Linked DNA regions of Homo sapiens: region 1 is linked to region 2. Evidence: fine-mapped expression QTL. Tissue or cell type: whole blood. Region 2 holds a variant in brackets; the other region holds the start of a gene. All regions are shown on one strand. Distances are from middle to middle.

What was found. PIP is the estimated chance that this variant, and not a neighbour inherited with it, causes the effect.
Region 1: CHMP7 starts here. The variant in region 2 is fine-mapped to the expression of CHMP7 in whole blood (TOPMed, PIP above 0.99).

Annotation. Positions count from the first base shown.
Region 1 is chr8:23,239,522-23,247,683 of GRCh38, forward strand. It overlaps CHMP7 (charged multivesicular body protein 7), which reads left to right and starts at 4,116. Exons shown (of 11, transcript NM_152272.5): 1 at 4,116-4,323; 2 at 6,735-7,473. The coding sequence starts at 7,175. RefSeq lists enhancers at 3,808-4,309, 6,879-7,128, 7,932-7,981 and a silencer at 7,149-7,658.
Region 2 is chr8:23,216,062-23,224,252 of GRCh38, forward strand. All of the region lies in intron 1 of TNFRSF10A (TNF receptor superfamily member 10a), which reads right to left. Among named protein-coding and RNA genes, the nearest start is that of TNFRSF10A, 4.9 kb to the right of the region's middle. RefSeq lists enhancers at 2,159-2,358, 3,389-3,458, 3,639-3,698. The variant C/G (reference allele first, on the strand shown) is at 3,589.

The DNA.
Region 1 (8,162 bases), 23 kb after region 2:
TGTCCTACCTTTCCAGACCAAACCAATGTACTTCTTACATATATTGATTGATATCTCATGTCTCCCTAAAATGTGTAAAACAAAGCTGTGCCCTGACCTCCTTGGGCACATGTCCTCAGGCCTTCCTGAGTCTGTGTCATGAGCACACGTCTTCAGCTTGGCAAAATAAACCTTTTTTTTTTTTTTTTTGAGATGGAGTCTTGCTCTGTTGCCCAGGCTGGAGTGCAGTGATGTGATCTCCGCTCACTGCAAGCTCTGCCTCCCAGGTTCACGCCATTCTCCTGCCTCAGCCTCCCGAGTAGCTGGGACTACAGGCACCTGCCACCATGCCCGGCTAATTTTTTGTATTTTTAGTAGAGACGTGGTTTCACCGTCTTAGCCAGGATGGTCTCGATCTCCTGACCTGGTGATCTGCCCACCTTGGCCTCCCAAAGTGCTGGGATTACAGGCGTGAGCCACCGCGCCCGGCCAGCAAAATAAACTTTCTAAATTAACTGAGACCCGTCTCAGATATTCTGGGCCCATATTTAATAACCATAAAGGGATTCTGAGTGGAATGCTCCCCACCTCTGACAAATCTAGCCTCTGACAAGCTAGATTTGACAAGCACCTATTGGTGCTTGGTACCAGCATGAGCTTACTTTATGGCTCAAACCTATGGGACAATTTGCTGAGGTCTGAGAGCAACCCACCCCTCACCCCTCCGCCCCACCAAGAGAATTACTATCTTCCCAAATTTGGTTGAAATCTAAAGTTTATTTTGCTATACAACTTTTTTTTTTTGGAGTTTTACTTGCTTCCAACAAGAAAGGCAAGTTTTCCTGCTTCCATGATGATGGAAGATAGGTAACTCCTTTATGGAGTTTGAGCTCACTTCCAACAGGGAAGGTGAGTTTGTTGTTGTTGTTGTTGTTGTTGTTGTTGTTTTGTTTGTTTTTCTGCTTCTAGGATGGTAGAGAGTGGTCTACAGCCTGAGATCCATTCCTAGATAAGCAACTGAATTGGGGTTTATCTTGGCTAAAGTTAAGATTAAAAACCAGCTGGTCTTTATTTCTCCTTACCATTACAGTGCTCAGGAATTATGTTAAGTTGTGAGATTGTTTGTTTTGCTTAACTTTTTTGTTGTTGTTGATGTTTATTTGTTTCTGTTTTTGTTGTTTCAGTCTTTCTCCCGTTGGGTTTGACCAACTCTGTCCAACTCAATCAAATCCGAAGGAAAGTTCCAAATTATGAGGAACAAGGCCTCTAAAGTGGCTAAATTCCCATACACAAAAAAAGGTGGTATAGTGAGGGGAGAAAAACGGCCAACAAAAGAAAAAAAATAAATAAAAACTTTTTTTTTTTTTTTTGAGACGGAGTCGCTCTCTGTCGCCCGGGCTGGAGTGCAGTGGCGCGATCTCGGCTCACTGCAAGCTCTGCCTCCCGGGTTCACGCCATTCTCCTGCCTCAGCCTCCCGAGTAGCTGGGACTAAGGCACCCGCCACTACGCCTGGCTAATTTTTTTGTATTTTTTGGTAGAGACGGGGTTTCACCGTGTTAGCCAGGATGGTCTGGATCTCCTGACCTGGTGATCTGCCTGCCTCGGCCTCCCAAAGTGCTGGGATTACTGGCTTGAGCCACCGCACCCGGCCGGCAAGAAAAATGTTTTATTTTTATTACTTAAGGGGTTTTATTTACATAACAAAGCCTCCTTTTTGCTAACCAGGCCAAACTGAAAGCAATGGCTGTCCCCCTACTCTGCAGTTCAATAGCTAAGGTTCTGCCTTTTTTTTTCTCCTGTCTTCATGACAGCCTAAGTTTGGTTCCTAAATCAAGTCCTTTCTGGTTTGATAGTTGGTACTTCTGCTTTTTTTTTTTTTTTTTTTTTTTTTTTGAGACAGAGTTCCGTTCTTGTTGCCCAGGCTGGAGTCCAATGGCGTGGTCTCAGCTCACCGTAACCTCCGCCTCCCGGGTTCAAGCAATTCTCCTGCCTCAGCCTCCCGAGTAGCTGGGATTATAGGCATGTGCCTTTTGAATTTCTTAGTAGAGATGGGGTTTCTCCATGTTGGTCAAGCTGGTCTCGAACTCCTGAGCTCAGGTGATCCACCAGCGTCGGCCTCCCAAAGTGCTGGGATTACAGGTGTGAGCCACCGCGCCGGACCAATACTTGGTACTTCTGAAATAGCAGCAATTTGTCCTAGCTGAAATATAATAATAAAATTTTGAATTTTTTTTTTTTGAGACAGAGTCTTGCTCTGTCGCCAGGCTGGAGTGCAGTGGCACGATCTTGGCTCACTGCAAACTCTGCCTCCCGGGTTCAAGCGATTCTCCTGCCTCAGCCTCCTGAGTAGCTGGGACTACAGGCGCGTGCCACCACACTCGGCTAATTTTTGTATTTTTAGTGGAGACGGGGTTTCACCATGTTAGCCAGGATGGTCTCCATCTCCTGACCTCATGATCCGCCCGCCTGGGCCTCCCAAAGTCCTGGGATTACAGGCATGAGCCACTGCACCCAGCCCAAGATTTTTTATTTTTAAAGACACTCAATAGTTAAAAGTCAACTTAATTAAAAGCTAATATTTAAAATGTATGTGTATGTGTATGTGTGCATAAGTGCATGTTCATATTTAAAAGGCCTTCATGGTTTTGTTTTTGTTTTTCTCTGCTAGGACCTTGTCTTTTTTTGAGCAAAAACTTTTTTTGTTCTCAATTGACTCAATTCTGTTTCCACTCGATTTTTTTTTTTTTTTTTACTAAAATAGTTATTGCAACAGAGGCTACTCTTGGGTTTTTAAGAAAGAGTATAGTTTAGACACTTAGAAATGCTTTGTTTACAAAAATGTTTTAAGTGCACTGTAAAAGCATCATGTGGTCTAGCCTCATAATAATTCTCCCTTTTTGGAGACCCAGGATTCAGTGTGGGCTCTGCCCAGAGCTCAGAGATCCAGTTAAAAAAGAATTGGTAGTCCCTATCTAAATAACAGTGGTCTCCTTATACAATCCAGTGATAAATTTCTATAATTTTATGTTCAATTGGCAATTAAATCTGTTTTAATTTCCCTCTAGCTCACAGAATTTCTCTTCAGACCTTATAATGTAAATTTTGCTATCTGACTTTCACCTGAGTTGTTTCCTTTAATATGCAAATTTAAGACTATTTAGCTGACTACTGCCTAGCACTGTGAAACAGGTTATCAAGAATCTGAAAGTCTAAGATAAAGAAAAAAGGTTTTTATGAATCTGTAAGATGTACTTCTTCTATCAGCATGCCTAATACATCTATGTATTTATATGTTATGTATACAATGTTGCACTCCTGAAAATATATCAAAGAGCTCTAATTAATTGTCTTAAAAAATAAAAGCATTTACATCAAATACTTTATTAGAAAAAGGAAAGACTAGTCAAATGCTTTTTCAAGTTATGTGACTTAAGTAAAATCTTTAATAAATAAGCTATCTTTAAAATTATTGGTAAAGTAATATTAGAAATGTCTTAGGAATTGCCAGCATACATTTTTATTTGCGTTTATTAATCAAGCAATTTCATACTTAACCCTGCCAAATACTATTAGGTGTCAAAATTTGGCACAGGCTATAAACCCAGCCCAAGACAGAATGATCTCTGCTCGTGTAACCATTAATAAATAAGACATTGATACTGGTTTAATGAAAATAGCTACATCTTGATTTAGTAAAATTACCATAACTTCTAATCTTGTGGCAGTCTAGGCAGTCTAGTCCACAGGCAGTAAGGAGTTTTGTTTTGGGAAAGGACTGTTATACTTTGTTTCAAAGTTAAACTATAAGTAAACTTGCATGGGAAGAGAATGTTTAATTTTGTGAAAAACGACCAAACTGTCTTCCAAAGTAGCTCTTAGAGACAACCTGTCCACAGAAGAACGCAGCAAGCCCCCTCCCCTAAATGCCCTGCAGCTTATTTCTTCTGAGATGCTGCCCCTACTTCACGTTACCAGAACTTAGGTACAGCTGTATCCACCCCCAGGCCAAACCACATCCTGGTACTCTAAGCCAGGTGGGGCAAGAAGTGACAAACAACTGCAGGATGTAGACTAACCTCAGAAAGCCCCTAGGCCCTCAAAGCCCTATATAAGTCCCTCACCTTAAACACCCTGGGCTGCCTCCTCTGACTGTTATGCAGCAGGCCGGCAGGTCAATAAACTTGCTTGCCTGACTTTGAGTATACTCGTCTTTTCTCTTGGCCAACCTTACGGTAGCTGTACCAGTTTGCATTTCCACCAGCAATGAATGAGAGTTCCTGTTGCTCTGCATCCTCACCAGCATTTGGTGTGGTCAGTATTTTGGATTTTCACCATTCTAATAGGTGTGTAGTAGTATGCTATTCTTGTCTAATTTGCTGTTCCCCAATGACATATGATGTTGGGCATATTATCATATACTTATTTGCCGTTGGTAGATCTTCTTTGGTGAGAGGTCTGCTCAGATCTTTTATCCATGTTTTAACTGGGTTATTCTTTTTCTTTTTTTTTTGAGTCTTAAGAGTTCCTCGTGTGTTTTGGATAACAGTCCTTTATCAGAGATGTCTTTTGCAAATAGTTTCTACCAGTCTGTGGCTTATCTTCACATTCTCTTCACAGTGTCTTTCAGAAAGCAAATAATAATAATAATAATAATTACGTCTAATTTATCAATTATTTCTTTCATGGATTATGCTTTTTGTGTTGTATCTAAAAAGTAATCATGATGCCCAAGGTCATCTAGATGTTTTGTCTTCTAGGAGTTTTATTGTTTTGTGTTTTTACATTTAAGTCCATGATCCATTTGAGCTGGCTTTTGTGAATGGTGTAAGATCTGTACCTGGATTTGTTTTTGTTTTTGCATGTAGGTGTACAGTTGTTCCAGTGCTCATTGTTGAAAAGACTCTTTGAACCATTGTATTGCCTTTCTTTTTTCGAAAGGTCAGTTGACTGTATTTACATGTGCCTATTTCTGGGATTCCTATTCTGTTCCATTTATCTATTTGTTTATTCTTTAACTAATACCACACTATCTTGATTACTGTTGATTTATAGTAATTCTTGAAGTTGGGTTGTATCCGTCCTCTGACTTATTTGTTCAATATTGTGTTGGCTCTTCTGGGTCTTTTGCCTTTCCACATAAACTTTAGAATTAGTTTGTTGATATCCACAAAATAACTAGCCATGATTTTCACTGGGATTTCACTGGATCTACAGATCAATTTGGGAAGAATTGATATCTTGATAATATTGAGTTTTCCTGTCCATGAATATAAAATGCCTCTGTATTTATTTAGTCCTTCATAGATTTCTTTCATCAGAATTTTGTAGTTTTCCTTATGTAGAATTTGTACATACCGTGTTAGATTTATACCTAAGTTTTATAGGGGGGTGCTAATGTAAATGGTATTGCATTTTTAATTTCATATTCCACTTGATCATTATAGGTATATGGGAATTGACTTTTATACATTAACTTTGTATCTGCAATCTTGTTCTCATTGCCTCTTAGTTCCAGGACATCGATTTGGCAATTCTTTCATAATTTTCTGCATGGATAATTATGTCTTCTATAAAGACAGACCATTTTATTTCTTCCTCTTCAGTCTGTACAACTTTTATTTCTTTTTCTTGGCTAACTGTGTTAGCTAGGATTTCCCGTACAGTGTTGACTAGGAATGGTGTGAGCAGACATTCTTGTGTTATTCCTGATTCCACTGGAAAACGATCTAGGTTTTCACCATTAATTCTTATGTTGGCTGTAAGGTTCCTGTTTATGTTCTTTATCAAGTGGAGGATGTGTCCCTCTATTCCTAGAGTGCCGAGACTTTTTATCATGAGCTGGTGTTGGATTTTGTCAAATGCTTTTTCTGCATCTAGCAATATGATCATATGATTTTTCTTTAGTCTGTTGGTGGATTATATTAATTGATTTTTGAACATTGAACTAGCCTTGCCTAGCTGTAATAAATTCCGCTTTAACCTGGTGTACAATTCTTTTGATACATTGTGGGTTTCAATTTGCTAACATTCTATTGATGATTTTTGCATCTATATTCACAAGATATATTGTTTTGTGTTTTTTCTTTCTTGTAATGTCTTTGTGTGGTTTTGGCGTTAGGGTAATCCTTGCCTCATAGGATCAGTTGGGAAGTATTCCTTTTGTTTCTATCTTATAAAAGAGATGGCACAGAACTGGTACAACTTTTTTCTTAAATATTTGGTAGAACTTATCAAATGAAACCATCTGGGCCTAATGCTTTCTGTGTGGATGTTGTTAATTATTGATTCAATTAATTAGATATAAACATATTCAAGTGGTCTGTTTCCTCTTGTGTGTTTTGGCAGAGTGTGCTTTCAAGAAATGTGTCCATTTCGTCTAGGTTATCAAATTTGTGGACATACAGTTATTCATAGTATTCCTTTATTATCATTTTCATGCCCATGGGATCTGCAGTAATGTCCCTTATTTCATTTCTGATATTGAGTATTTGTTTTTTCTCTTTGTTAGCCAGGCTAGAGGTTAATCAATTTCATTGACCTTTTCAAAAAATCAGCTTTAGGTTTTGTTGATAATCTTTTGAGTTTGTTTTCAATTTCATTGATTTCTGCTCTTTTTATTATTTTTTCTCTTCTGTTTAATTTGATCTTAATTTGTTCTTCTTTTATAGATTCCCAAGGTGGAATCTTAGGTTATTTTAGATCTTTCTTCTTTTCTGGTTTGTGCATTCATTGATATAAATTTCCCTCTATACAGAGATTCACGGATCCATCCGGGTGGTCCGGGCACCACTGGCGCCCCTCTGCGGCTATTCCCCAGTTCCATTTTCTGAAGCCACAGGTCAGAAGCCGCTGTACAACGCTTTGCCGAACTCCAGAATCTTGAAGGAGACGTAAGGTGCAGCCACCTGCCGCGCAGGCGCAAGCCTTTCTTTCGGCACAAAGACCGTGGGAGGAGGGGTCGGCGCAAGCGCTCGGTGTCTCTCTGAAAAGAACTTCATCATACTGCCTCCTGGCTGACGGAGCGCAGCGCAACGCATGCGCCTTGAAGACTTATGGAACTTATTTCACGCTCAGGGCGGCGGTGACGTGTGAACGAGAAGGAGGTGGTCAAGGAACGGAAGCCGGGAGGGAACGAGGGCGGAAGCGGACCAGGGCCAGGCTTGTGTTCGCAGCCTTGCCGGGGCTGGGGTTCCGATGTGGTCCCCGGAGCGGGAGGCCGAGGCCCCAGCCGGGGGAGACCCGGCGGGCCTTCTGCCCCCCGAGTGGGAGGAGGACGAGGAGCGCATGTCCTTCCTGTTCTCCGCTTTCAAGAGGAGTCGCGAGGTGAACAGCACCGACTGGGACAGCAAGATGGGCTTCTGGGCGCCGTTGGTGCTGAGCCACAGCCGCCGCCAGGGGGTGGTGCGCCTGCGTCTGCGGGACTTGCAGGAGGCCTTTCAGCGCAAGGGGAGCGTCCCGCTGGGGCTGGCCACGGTGCTGCAGGACCTGCTGCGGTGAGGGGCGGGCTGGGGCCAGGGCCGCGAGGGCGGGCGGGGGCAGCTCTCGGAGGGCCGGGCCCTGGTCCTGTTCTCTGCACAGCGCACTGCGCCCAGCCCAGTGTCTGGCCCAGAGAAGGCATCCAGTGTGTGTTCAGAAGGCGAAGAAGGAAAATAAGGAGGCTGGGCTAGGGAGGCTTGGAGGGAGAGGAAGAGGGGATCTGGGGGAAGATTGGGGGGCGGGGATAGTCCGATTAGACGAGTTCCAGAGAAGCCAGCCTAACAGAGGTGACAGTAATTTGCCTGGACTGGGACCCCGTTATGTTGTTGTTTCCTAAGGGCCTCCAAATTTGAATGGCCCGTGGAGCAGAAGGTCTAAGAGATAGGATTCATTAACCTAGGGAAGGTTAGAGCTAAAAAGCGGGCATTCGTGGGGAAGAGGCCTGTAGGCATCTTGCCAACAACCCCTGGCACAGCTCATTCGTCTGGCTTGTCCTTGGCACAGGCTTTTTGGAGCAGAGAGGACGTGAAGGAGAATGAGGGCTTTGCTGAGTATCTGAGTGCCCTTAAAAGGTCTGTAGGAGATACGTGTGCGACAGGTGCAGTTTTGGCGGTATCTGAGGGTAACATTGATAACTAATACATGTACAGTACTTCCCAGCATGCAGATACTTTGCATGCACCATTTGACCCACTCAGCGGTCTTG
Region 2 (8,191 bases):
CCTGCCTCGGCCTCCCAAAGTGCTGGGATTACAGGGATGAGCCATCTCGTCCGGCCAGTTTATTACTTTTATTAATTTTGTTGATCATTTCTGAGAACCAACTCTTAGCTTGTTGATTCCTTTTATTGTTTGAATTCTATTTCATTGATTTCAGTCTTATTATTTCCTTGTCATGTTGTTACTACCTTTGAGTTTAATTTATACTTATTTTACGGGTAAGTAATGCACACCTCTGAGTCATTGATTTTGATACCATTCTTCTTTTAATCCTTAAGAACTTTACTGAGATATACTTTATATATGATGTAATTCTTTCCTTTAAATATATTTATAGAAGTGTATAACCATCAATAAAATCAATTTTTGAAGATTTTCATCATCATCCCCAAAAGAAACTCCAGGCCAGGCACGGTGGCTCACGCCTGTAATCCCAGCACTTTGGGAGGCCGAGGTGGGTGGATCACGAGGTCAGGAGTTCAAGACCAGCCTGTGCAACATGGTGAAACCCTATCTGTACTAAAAATACAAAAATGAGCCGGGCGTGCTGGCAGGTGCCTATAGTCCCAGCTACTCGGGAGGCTGAGACAGGAGAATCACTTGAACCCGGGAGGCAGAGGTTGCAGTGAACCGGGATCACGCCACTGCATTCCAGCCTAGGCGACAGAGCAAGAAGCCAATTCAAAAAAAAAAAAAAGAAATATTTTGAATTCTCTTTGATTTCATTCGTGAACTATGAGTTATTTATAAGTATGTTGCTTAATATTCACATTTTTGGAGTCCTTCTAGATATTGTTATTGCTTAACACTTTAATTTCATTGAGATCAGAGAACATATTTTATATTATTTTGTTTTAAATGTATTTAGATTTGTTTTATAGTTCACAATGTGGTCTATCTTGGTGAAGTACCATGTTCATAGAAGAGAAGGAATCTCCCATAGATGTTGCATATATGCTCTATAAATGTCAGTTAAGTCAAGGTGGTTGACAATGTTCAGATCTGTTATTTTACTGTTTTCATCTGATCGTTCTATCAGTTGCTGAGAAGGGGGTGACATGATCTCCCTTTAATCCTTTTGAGCGTTGCTTCATTTATTTTAAAGCTCTACTATTAGACATATACACATTTATGATTATTATGCCTTCTGATGAATTCATTTTTTTTTTCTTTTTTGAGACGGAGTCTTGCTCTGTTGCCAGGCTGGAGTGCAGTGGCACAATCTCTGCTCACTGCAACCTCCGAATCCCTGGTTCAAGTGATTCTCCTGCCTCAGCCCTCCCCAGTAGCTGAGATTACAGGCAAATGCCACCACACCCAGCTAATTTTTGTATTTTTAGTAGAGATGGGGTTTCACCATGTTGGTCAGGATGGTCTCGATCTCCTTGACCTCGTGATCTGCCCACCTCAGCCTCCCGAAGTGCTGGGATTACAGGGGTGAGCCACTGCGCCCGGCCTGAATTCACTTCTAACACTAAAAATAGTACCTTAAAAAAAAATCTCTACTAATAGCAAGTGAAAACCTGACAACGAGCTCCTGGTGACTCTGGACCTGGACAGTGCTCAGCCTTCTGTTCAGCTGTTCTTCCCACCTCTCACATGAAACATGTCTATGAAAGGCTGAGGACGTCACATCTGCATTGGTGCGGGCTTCCTAGAACCCATGTTACTCATTCATCCAAGGAGGGCATGTCGGCGCCTGGTAGAAACGCTGTGCAAGGAATCGTGGGGTATCAAGAAAAAGGCACGACCCTCCCTTTCCTTAGGACAGTTCCAGTTCCCAGGGAGATGAGGCACAGCCATCAATAACCCGAGTCACGAGGGGCTGCCCAGGCAGAGGTGACAAATGCCACTGGTGGCAGGGACACCGGTAGACATAGAGGGAAAGGTCCACATAGAGGGAAAAGTCCACACAGGCAGGTTCCTAGGCAGATACGAAGTCAAGGCAGTCGGGGAGGGCAGTCAAAACAAGTGATGCTGGGACACAACTCTGAGGTTTGTGGGCGTCTGATTAAGGGAGATGGAAGGTGAGGTCAGAGAAGTGAGGTTCTCAGTTCACAGATTTGGGCTCATGGGGGTGTGAGGTTGTGTGTGTGTTTGTGTGTGTGAGAGAGAGAGAGGGAGAGAGAGAAAGAGAGCAAGAGAGAGAGGTCTTGTTCCAGGTCTTCTCCTCCATAGACTCTCCTGACCCTGCCCTGCCTCTTCCTGAGATGAGTCATTCACCAGGGGGTTTCCTTGCCTTGTTCCTCTCGGATTAGCATTGTGTTAGGCTGTTTCAGAGGTAAGTTTGATATTCACACTGATTTCCTCTCTCAGGCATACACACCCTAAAAAAATGCCTTATTGATCTTAAAATGAGCAACTCAGAATTGTTCTGAGGTTGGCTGTGGTCGAAAATCTGCTTCCTTTGAGTCTTTCGTGGCTTTTTTATTTCTTTGTTCTTTTGGTATAAAAAGACCCCTGGGTTAAGAAGCAAGCCATCTGTCTTGTAGTCTCGGGCCAGCCTCATGGTCTGGGGGAAGCCACTTCTTCTCTAAACATGTCTATCATTCTGGAAATAAGAGGTGGCTTTACATGACTTCTCAGGTACCCCCAGCAGTGACCCAGCGCTGGGTGAATGCAGGCCTCATGAAAAAGCACCAAATACTCCCCTGGGAAAGGTCAGCAGAACCCAGTGACCCAATCACTGCTGCTGCCCCGAGGGTTGCTCATCCTCCTGCCCAGCCCCTCTACTGAACAAATGTTCTGAGTCTCATGCTGTTTGTCTAAAACAAAGACAATGAGGGTTCCTGTACAGTCTGGTTGTATGAGGATTAAGTGTGTTCATTTACATATGAAGTGCTAAGAACAGAGCTTGGCACACGCAAGTACTGTATTTCAGCACATGCTGTTGTTAGTACAATCATTCCCCTCAATGTTGATTTTAATGAAACCACATCCTCTAAGCCACCAATACCATGACCTGGGGCCTTGCAACTGCTGGAGTCAAGTAGGGAGGGATGGCATCCCTGGAGCCGGCACAGCCTCTCTGGAGGTGGGGGGTGGGGGAGGTGGCCCCCATGCTTCCTGATAGTTATTTAGGTCCCTAGTGACACCTCCTCCACCAGACTGTGGGCTTCAGGGAGCAGGACTGACACAGGGCTCATTTGTCCTCCCACCACCACCAGGCGCAGACATTCTCAGAGTAAAGTGCTCATCACCTACTTCCTGGGTGAGTGACTTTCCCTCCAAGCCCATGAGGTGAGCCCAGTGGTGGCCTCAGCTCACCGCCTCAGGTCACAGGTTCCAGGCTACAGCACAGGGATGGGACCCCGAAGAGTCCTGTGGACTCTGCTAAGGAACCCTAGGAGCTCCCAGAGGCCAAGTGCAGGGCAGAGATGTGGAGAAGCAGCTGCTCAGAGGACTTTAGCCCTGCAGAAGCCAAAACACGGCTGCTATTATACAGAAGGGGAGACCAAAAATGCTACAGACATGGCTCCGGCAGATTATTTTTGCCACCATCGAAGTGCTGAAACCACACTGTTAAGGAGAAAATCTTAAAAGCAGCCAGAGAACAAAGATCTCCTCCCCACAGACAAGCCAGGTGAGAGG[C/G]GCAGCCTAAGCCCTGAAAAACCACACAGGAAGAGGCAGCGGCAGAGGCCCCACCCCAGCCGGTGCTGCTCCCCTCTCCTCTTCATCAGGACTGTCCCCGCTCCCTCCACCCAGTGCTGAGACCAACAGCAGACATGGGGGCGAGGGTGTGATGCACTTAACATGACCTAAGCCACACAAATATATTACCAACAAACTCCAATGACTTAACTTTGAGATTCTCTTCATCTAAGTTTTTAAAGTGGTCATTCCTAGTTTCTCTCATTCCTACCAGTGCTCTGGACAGACTTGCCTGTGGCCAGGTGCACACACGTTCCCCCTCTGAGCTGCACACACTTTCCCTCTCTGAGCTTTGGTCCTCTCCTCTGTAAAATGTGATGATTCACATCCCCTCCTGGCCACAGGCGAGTGTCTGAGGTGCCGAGTGCACCCTGCTCTTCCCTACAAAGCAGACCCTTTCTCCTTTCCCCATTATCACAGATACCTGCCTGGGAATCCGGAAGAGGCCCTTCCCAGTCCAACAGGCAGCTGCTATTATCAAGCAGGCCAGGTCCCAAATGCTGGGGACTTCCTCCTCCTAAATCTCATTTTCTCCCCAGACAAAATGAGAGCAACAATCCCCACATCCCTGGGTTAGGAAAATACCCTGAATGAAGATGTGCAGTCTCTGGCTGGGCTGGCCCAATCTCTATGCCAGGTCCTTCCACCTCACCTCTCTCTTTAGCAAAGTAGAAATTGAGAAATTCTGAAGGCTCTGAAGCTTAGACACTCAGGCTATCAAAGAGCCCAGAGATTGGAGGCTGAAGACTGCCAGGGTTGGCCGTGCTCCTCTTCAGCTGTGACTCTGCTGTGGCCCCAGCTCCTTCCTATAAACTAGGCAGATATAAAATCTGCAGCGGCCCTTTATAAACCACAGTGGTCTGTGTTGGCAGATGTGTGCTGCCGTGTAGGAGGACAAATCACATGCTCAGGGCTGGTGTCAGTCACTCATGACTCTGGATCCCCAGGGCACCTGTCCTAATGAACTTGAAAGAGAACTGAAGGCACTGGCATTTTTCCAGACTAAGTGACACCAACTGCCCAACAGCACAGGCTCAGGGCATGGCACTGTCCCCATCTCCGACCTGGAAGCTAAAGCCTTGCTGCCCTGTCACTCCTGGATACAGGACAGAGGACCAGAACTGGGACTGTTGCCTCTCAGTAGGGGCTGGGTGAGCAGCCATCTGCAGCCACATGGATGGAGACCTTTCCTGCTCACTCTTCAAACTGCAACCAGTGCCGGGTGCCCACCAGAAGGACAACTGGAAGGAAACGTGGCAGGTAAGCCAGGCTGTGGCCCTGCAGTGACATCTTTGTCCTAACTTGAAGTCTGGCTCCTCTGTTCCTCCACGGCCCCTCCCCATGGCGCTCCACCCCATTCCTTAGAACCTTCTGCCCCAAGCTCAGAGAGCCAGTATGGAGGTGCAGGTGGGAGCAGGTGCAGCCTCTGCTGGGTAGAGGACAGGTGCTCTGGGGATCCAGAGTCCTGAGTGACTGACACCAGCCCTGAGCATGTGATTTGTCCTCCCACACGACAGCACACATCTGCCAACACAGACCACTGTGGTTTACACAGGGCCGCTGCAGACTTTTATATCCACCTAGTTTATAGGAAGGAGCTGGGGCCACAGCAGAGTCACAGAGCTGAAGAGGAGCACGGCCAACCCTGGCTGTCTTCAGCCTCCAATCTCTGGGCTCTGATAGCCTGAGTGTCTAAGCTTCAGAGCCATCAGAATTTCTCATTTCCTACTTTGATAAAGAGAGAGACGAGACGAGGTGGAAGGACCTGGCACAGAGATTGGGCCAGTCCAGCATTGACAGAGCCAGGACCTGGGGTGAGAAACTGAGCTCAGCTCCAGGCTCATCTGATGTCATCCTGACAGTCTGAGGACAGAGACATTATCTCCATTCACAGGCATGGCGGGTGGCAGGAACTGGCCCCAGCCGACCACAGTTTCCTAAGTGCAGAGGTGCGACTGCAGTCTTCCCTGCTCCCTCCCCAACGGTCTAATCTGGAGTCTCTAGGTCATCTACTCCCAGTCTCAAAAAATTCCTGGATCCTTGAAAATCTCTAATAACACTGAAACAAAAAATACAACATTGAGGTCTATCATTTTTTACCTCTTAGAGTAGCAAAGAATGAAAGTTCCATGTAGTAAGGGTGCAGGGACACGGGCACGCTTGTGTATTCTTTTTTTTTTTTCTTGAAACGGAGTCTCGCTCAGTCGCCCAGGCTGGAGTGCAGTGGCGAGATCTCGGCTCACTGCAAGCTCTGCCTCCCGGGTTCACGCCATTCTCCTGCCTCAGCCTCCCGAGTAGCTGGGACTACAGGCGCCCGCCACCGTGCCTGGCTAATTTTTTTCAATTTTTAGTAGAGACGGGGTTTCACCGTGTTAGCCAGGATGGTCTGGATCTCCTGACCTCGTGATCCACCTGTCTCGGCCTCCCAAAGTGCTGGGATTACAGGCGTTAGCCACCGCACCCGGCCACACTTTTGTATTCTTGGTGTGAGAGTAAAACTGGCACAATCTTCTCCCGAAGTACAATTTAGCAATATCCAAACAAAATTCTACATTGATGAGCTCATGTACCTAAAAATTCCTCTTCTAAAGGGCTGCCCGATACTTCAGGGAACATTGACATATGGACATATGACACATACAAGGGTTCTCACTACAATGCTGCTGGAATTAGAAAAAACAAAAGCAGGACATAATGTTAACAATTGCCCATGGGATGGAAGATTAAAATTAACTGTGGTTCACGCCATGTGTTTCACCCATGCACTAAATATTATGATGCTGTTAAAAAGAATGAGATACTTGCATGTACTGATAGAAAACATCCAATGCGATTTGTTCTTCAGTCAGAATTTTAAAAGTTAAGGTGCCTATAAATGCACAGGAAGAAGGCTGAGGGATGGTGGGATGAGAGGGTCCTGTGGGATGGCAGAAGGCCTTGGTGTCTGCTACGGGTCCTTTGTCCCTGCCAGGGCTCACGTTGAAATCTGAACCGTAATGTAGCTGGTGGGGCCTGTTGGGGTTTGGGGTGGATCCCTCATGAAAGGCTTGGTGCCATAACCGCCCCCTCCCACATTCCCCCAGGAGTTGTCAATCTTAGTTCCCCATGACACCTGGTTGTTAGAATGAACCTGGCCCCTCCCCGTCTCCCTTCCGGATCTCATCCCCCTCCTCCTGCCATCCTCCCCACCCCTTCCCCTGATGGGCAGAATCCAGCTGTCCTTCCCCTTCACCACCAGTGGAAGTTTCCTGAGGCCTCACCAGAGGCAGATGCTGGTGGCATGCTTCTTGTACAGCCTGCAGAACCATGTGCCAAATAAGCCTCTTTTAAAATTATCCAGCGTCAAGTTTTCTTTTTTATTTTTTTTCTTTTCCGAAACGGAGTCTCCCTCTGTCGCCCAGGCTGGAGTGCAGTGGCGTGGTCTCGGCTCACTGGAAGCTCCGCCTCCCAGGTTCACGCCATTCTCCCGCCTCAGCCTCCCGAGTAGCTGGGACTACAGGCGGCCACCACCACGCCTGGCTAATTTTTTGTATTTTTAATAGAGACGGGGTTTCACCGTGTTGGCCAGGATCGTCTCGATCTCCTGACCTCGTGATCCGCCCGCCTCGGCCTCCCAGAGTGCTGGGATTACAGGCGTGAGCCACCGCGCCTGGCCTCAAGTATTCTTTTATAGCCACACCAACGGACTGTGACATTTCCAAAACCACCAAATTCAGATGTTTCACCTTGTCTATACAGGTGAGCCCTACATCCACCTGGAATCGCACTAGCCTGTCAAAAAGAAAGCCATTTAATAAGCGTATTAAAAATAAGAGTCAAACGTGGGTTCCACCTAACATAAACTGACGTTTAAAACATAAATTCTGTAATTATTTGGAGATTTCAAAATGCTATTGGATTCCTGGATTTTGTTTAGTTTGTTAAACAAAAACACGTAAAATTTCCTGACACTTGTAAGACTGGTTTATCCTTCAGGTACTTAGCTTTCGTTTTGTTTTTCCTTAACATAGAAGGAATCTGGATGAGAACAATTGGTAGAGCCTTAATGAACTTGAAAGAGAACTGAAGGCATTGGCATTTTTCCAGACTGAGTGATTGCTTTCACAGGAAACGCTGCCTCCTGAAGGAAGGGCGTGCCCCGCTCCTGGCTGCCTGCCTCGTGGTGGTCAATTCGCTGCCCTGTACCTGTTGATGCGCAAGAAAGTGGCTGGAAGGAAACTGCTGCCGGTGTGCTCAGTGGACTCGAAACGGAAGACAACGAGCAGAGGAGAGAAAGTTACTTTTTCCTGCCGGGCTGCGTGTTTAACCAATTTGTCTAAGAAAAGAAGGATGGAGGGCCGGGCGCGGTGGCTCACGCCTGTAATCCCAGCACTTTGGGAGGCCGAGGCGGGCGGATTTGGCTAACACAGTGAAACCCCGTGACTACTAAAAATACAAAAAATTAGCCGGGCGTGGTGGCAGGAGCCTGTACTCCCAGCTACTCGGGAGGCTGAGGCAGGAGAATCGCTTGAACCAGGAAGGCGGAGCTTGCAGTGAGCCGAGA